2 separate regions of the Homo sapiens genome follow, and region 1 is linked to region 2. The links come from fine-mapping of genetic effects on gene expression. A gene starts in region 2. The other region holds a variant in brackets. All regions are shown on one strand. Distances are between the middles of the regions.

Region 1 (2,905 bases), 30 kb before region 2:
ATCCCCTCTCCAATGGATCTGCATCCAGAGTGCTCAAGGACCACAAATCCCAGGTGGAGGAAAATGGGAAGATGGAGATGTCTCAAAGGATCTGCTGTGTCCTTCCTTTAAGGGACAACCAAGCCACAGGAGGGTCAGGCAGGCCTGTGGTGATGTTTTTGAGACCTCTATGTGTGATAAGTAATGGGACGTGTGCTAAGTAACCCCAAAATGCTAGTTCTCGTGGCCTCTCTCTCCGGCTTTTCCTCAATGGCTCCCAACTATTTCAGTCACTCCACTCATTCACAGCCTGAGTGGTCCTGAAAGGGAAGATGATGTGTGGAAGCACGACCTAAATGAACAACACGGGGAGAGGGCATGGGCAAAGGGCGGCTCACTTTAACCTGGCTTTTCCCAGGCTGAGCTCAAGTCCCATCTCTCCTCCAGCAAGGGCTTGACACAGACACAACCTGCTCTGTCATAAGGTCTGGGCACCCAGTGGCCTCTTCCTCCCGTTCATCATATGCTGTAGACCATCCATTCAGTTGTTCCCTCGCCCATTCAGCAAACTGAATAACCACTGGGTGGGCAGACGCTGTGCCAGATGCCAATGAAACATCTGGAACACGAGACAGTCCTGCAGGTGTCCGAGCAGGACGGAGGTTCCATCTGCAATGAAGCCGAGGCACGCCAGGCTTGGGGAGGTGTGGCCACCACAGGGAACAGCCATGGCTCAAATGTTCCCCCAGATAGCTGCACCCAAGTTTCTGCTCAGATGTCACCTCCTCAGAAGGGCTTCTCTGGCCACCCTGTCTGGAATTGCTCCTCCTCATTCTCTATCCACCTGCTTTATTTTTCTTCACAGCACTTACTGTTCCCACACCTGCAGTCTGTGTGCCCCATGGGGGTTAGAATGTGAACCACACAAGGGCAGGCACTGGGCACCAGTGCACCCCAGCAAGTGCCTGGAACACAGAAGGGTGCCTCTGAGGAGTCACTAGAGACAGCTGAAGGAAAAGCCATGGGAATTGGGAACAAGTGTCAAGAAAGGAGTGGCTAGCAATGCCTGATGCTGCTGAGAGATCCAGTGCCACGGGGAAGTGTCCCTGCTGACCTGGGCTCAGCAGTCCCAATGGGTGGCGTGGGCAGAATCCCCAATGGCGGGGCCTGGAGAACATCTGGCAATGCAGGAAACAGGAATCACAGCATGGAGCTCATTCAGGAACTACGGCTGAAGAGCAGGAAAAGGAGGAAGAGGTAGGTGAGGGGGTGGATGTGGGCTGAGGAAGGGTCTCTTTTCAAGACATTAAAAATGGGGTCAAGCTGGGCACGGTGGTACG[C/T]ACCTGGAGCCCCAGCTACTCAAGAGGCTGAGGTGGGAGGATTGCTTAAGCCCAGGAATTCGACGCTGCAGTGAGCCCTGATTGTGCCAATGCACTCCAGCCTGGGTGACAAGAGTAAGACCCTATCTCTAAAAAATAAATACAGTAAAAATAAAAATGAGGGCCCGGCGTGGTGGCTCATGCCTGTAATCCCAGCACTTCGGGAGGCCGAGGTGGGAGGATCATGAGGTCAGAAGATCAAGACCATCCTGGCTAACATGGTGAAACCCAGTCTCTACTAAAAATACAAAAAATTAGCCAGGCATGGTGGCACGTACCTATAGTCCCAGCTACTTGGGGGGCTGAGGCAGGAAAATCGCTTGAACCTGGGAGGCGGAGCTTGCAGTGAGCCGAGATCACAACACTGCACTCCAGCCTGGGTGACAGAGGGACACTCCATCTCAAAATAAATAAATAAATAAATAAATAAATAAATAAAAAATAAGGTCAGGCAGGAAGCTGCCAAGGGAGAGCCTGAAGATTCAGGCCCAGGACATAATTGATAGAGGTGGCCTACGGCACAGTGTCCGCAAAGGAACCAGAACACAGGAGAGGAGACTTCCTCTCTTCACACCAGGTGGCTCTCAGCTACTTCCAGGTTGGGTTCTTTTTTTTTTTTTTTTTTTTTTTGAGACGGAGTCTCGCTCTGTCACCCAGGCTGTAGTGCTAGTGCAGCGGCGCGATCTTGGCTCACTGCAAGCTCCACCTCCCAAGTTCACGCCGTTCTCCTGCCTCAGCCTCCTGAGTAGCTGGGACTACAGGCCCCCGCCACCATGCCCAGCTAATTTTTTTGTATTTTTAGTAGAGACGGGGTTTCACCATGTTAGCCAGGATGGTCTCGATCTCCTGACCTTGTGATCCGTCCGTCTCGGCCTCCCAAAGTGCTGGGATTACAGGCGTGAGCCACCGCGCCCGGCCTTTTTTTTTTTTTTTTTTGAGACAGAATTTAACTTTTGTTGCCCAGCCTGGAGTGCAATGGCACAACCTAGGCTCACTGCAACCTCTGTCTCCCAGGTTCAAGCGATTCTCCTGTCTCAGCCTCCCCAGTAGCTGGGATTACAAGTGTGAGCCACCACACTCTGCTAATTTTTTGTATTTTTGTAGAGACAGGGTTTCACCATATTGGCCAGGCTGGTCTCGAACTCCTGACCTCACGTGATTCGCCCACCTCAGCCTCCCAAAGTGCTGGGATTACAGGCGTGAACCACCGTGCCCAGCCCACTAGTATTTTTTATATTCGTTACATTCTGAAATGGTATCTTGGATATATACTGAGTTAAATAAAACATTAAAATTAATTTCTGGCTGAGTGAGGTGGCTCATGTCTGTAATTCCAGCACTTTGGGAAGCCAAGGTGGGAGGATTGCTTGAGGCCAGGAGTTCAAGACCAGCCTGGGCAACAGAGTAAGACCCTATCTCTACATAAAAAAATGGCAGCAGGATCCCTTAAGCCAGGTGTTTGAGGTTACAATGAGCTATGATCGAGCCACTGCACTCCAGCCCGGGCAACAGAGCAAGACTCCATCCACCTCTACCTCCAAAATTAA
Region 2 (2,905 bases):
GGGTGTGTGTGTGTGTGTGTGTGTGTCAATTACTGATAGGAATTCACATTCTGGAAAACAAGCCACCAAACCAACCCGGGTTCAAGGTTTCGGGTTTATGATGACAAGCCTCTTTGTTTTGTAAAACTGCTATACTCACTAGCATCACCCCAAAAACCATACGGGAGTCAGATGTCTGCTTAACAGCTTCAGGTCAAGAAAAAACCTTCGGGTTTCCAAATTGGTGACTCCCCTCTACCCAGGGTTCTGGATTATTTTTTTCAAGGAGTCCATATGCACTTAGGAGTCATCAATCCCGGTCGCAGCTGTCAGAATCCTCCCCCCCAAGTACTATTCATACCGGGGCTCTGATTGCTAATGATTTTACTCACAAAGTTCCCTGCAGCAATTAAAAGGAGGCAGCAGGGTAAAACAAAAAGAGGCTGGGTGGCTTCACCATAATGCAGCCTGTAAGCTAGTGAACTTCTTGGGTTCGGCTGGGATTTTCACCTCTATCTTTGTTTTGGAATGCCCACAACCCCTCCCTGCACGGACCCGGCACGGCCTTCATTTCTGGATGCACAATGCAGTACCGAGCTCCTTGGGGGTCAGCAAAACGCCGCACTGGTGTAACGCCGAACGCGCCCCAGAACCTGAGTCCCCACGGGAGTCGGTCCACGTCTCTAAATCTCGAGGCCGACACCACAGCATAACATGTCTTAGAAGTCCCCTCAAGTCGGGAAGCCCAGGGCCCGCCCGGTCCCGGGCCAGCAGTGCCTGGCTGGCGTGTGCGCCCAGAGCTGCTGCAATGACTTTGCATGGAGTGTACCCTCCACTGGGGCTGTCCTCCCGCGTCGGCCACTGCAGTGGCACCGCTCCGGGCAGGGCCCTGCACGCCGTCCTTCCCTGGCCTCGGCCCGGCCGCCGACCCCCTGCCGCCCGCGCCGCCCAGCCCCCGCCCGCCGCACCTTGGTCTCCTTCACATGCTGCTTGACGCCCTCCGGGTACCACTGGACGCGCACGTAGCCGCGGCGCAGGGGGCTGGCCCGGCCCTCCTCGTGGCCCGCGCCCCCGGCCTCGGAGCACCCCGAGCTCCCGCGGCCCTCCTCCTCGCCCTCCGAGTCCGAGTCCTCGCCGTGGATGAGGCGCACCAGCCCGAAGTGCACGGAGCCACGGTAACGGCCCGACACCAGGTCGTGAGAAAACAGCAGGCGCTGCGAGCCGGCTTCTGGGCCGGAGTCCGAGGACGGCCCGGAGGCCGAGTCCGAGGCGGGCGCCGGCGCCGGGACGGGGGCTGCGGCTGGGGCCGGGACTGCCTCCGGGGCTGGAGCCGGGGCCTGGGCTGGAGCGGGAGCTGCGGGCGTGGGGGCTGCGGGATCCGCCATAACTGCTCTGCGCGAGTCTCGGGCGGCGGCGGCGACAGCGGCGGCGAACGAGGCGCGGGGAGGCGGGACCAGCGGGCGCCGGGGGCGGGGCCATAGCGCGCTGACGTGTCCCTGCGTGGCGCCGTCGTCAGGGAGCCGGGATGCAGTTGCTAGGAGCCACCGCCTCGTCGCTAGGGGACGCTGAAGATGCCGCGGGGGGCGGGGGCAGGATGGAATCCACTAAGAAGGGGCGAGACCAGTGAGGATTCAACTAAAGGGAGCGAGAAGGGGCGGGGACCCGGGAGGAGGAAGTGGAGTGGCCACCGAGGAAGAGGGGAGTGGTCGGGGTGGGGCACAGGATGGTGGAGAGACTGTCAACAACTTTTAATGAGCTCCCTTGGCGTCCTAGCCTAGCCCCCAGGCACTGGGAGCATTGCAGAAAGAGAAAGATACTGTCCCTGTCCTCTAGGTGTTTCCAGTCTAGTTGGGGAGACAAAACAAATACACATTAAATAGATAACAAACAACTCCAACTTGTAAGGCTATAATAGATACGTGTAGAGCATATGTATAATGCACTGTATTCAGGAATTCCAAGCAGTTCGAACGTCATGACCCCTCAGAAGTTGACCCAGAAGCTGGTGAAGGAGGCCCAGAGAAAGGTAACAAAAGGATCAGTGGTCCCAGTGGTTTGGCTACAAATCCATGCAGATAAATTCAAAGCTCCCTGAAGCCAAGAATGAATGGCAAGAGGTAGTATAGTAAGGTAGCTAAGAGTGGGGACCACGGATTCCAATTTTTGGCACTGCCACTTACTAATCTATAAAAATAGGCACACTGATTAACTTATTTTCATCTTAATTTGCTCATCTGTGAAATAGGGATGATAATAGCAATACTCATCTCATTGGGCAATTGGAGGATTAAGTGAAGTAGAACAGTGCCTGGCATTTAGCTCCTTCGATAAGCTTAACCATTGTTGTACTATTTCCAAACTCCCTGCCTAGACTAAATTCCAGACTGGCAGAACTGTTATGGTCTGCTCCATATTGTCATTTTAAAATATAAAAAGTAGGCCGGGCGCGGCAGCTCACACCTGTCATCCCAGTACTTTGGGAGGCTGAGGTGGGCGGATCACGAGGTCAAGAGATTGAGACCATCCTGGCCAACATGGCGAAACCCCATCTCTACTAAAAATACGGAAAAAAAAAAAAAATAGCTGGGCGTGGTGGCACATGGCTGTAGTCCCAGCTACTCAGGAGGCTGAGGCAGGCAAATCGCTTGAACCTGGGAGGCTGAGGTTGCAGTGAGCCCAGATCGCGCCACTGCACTCCACCCTGGGCAACAGAGCAAGACTCTGTCTCAAAAAAATAAATAAATAAAAATAAATAAAATATAAAAAGTAACTCTAGGGCCAGGCGTGGTGGCTCATGCCTGTAATCCCAGCACTTTGGGAGGCAGAAGCAGATGGATCACCTGATCACCTGAGGTCAGGAGTTCAAGACCGCCCTGGCCAACATGGCGAAATCCCTTCTCTACTAAAAGTACAAAAATTAGCTGGG

What was found. PIP is the estimated chance that this variant, and not a neighbour inherited with it, causes the effect.
Region 1: its variant is fine-mapped to the expression of UBE2O in whole blood (INTERVAL, PIP 0.95).

What each region holds. Positions count from the first base shown.
Region 1 is chr17:76,421,932-76,424,836 of GRCh38, forward strand. The region is part of intron 1 of UBE2O (ubiquitin conjugating enzyme E2 O); the gene reads right to left. Among named protein-coding and RNA genes, the nearest start is that of UBE2O, 30 kb to the right of the region's middle. RefSeq lists enhancers at 604-1,105, 1,106-1,605. The variant C/T (reference allele first, on the strand shown) is at 1,320.
Region 2 is chr17:76,451,778-76,454,682 of GRCh38, forward strand. UBE2O (ubiquitin conjugating enzyme E2 O) reads right to left here and starts at 1,375. Exons shown (of 18, transcript NM_022066.4): 1 at 948-1,375. The coding sequence starts at 1,364. It also overlaps a transcript of AANAT not described here. RefSeq lists silencers at 727-926, 1,047-1,586, 1,381-1,549.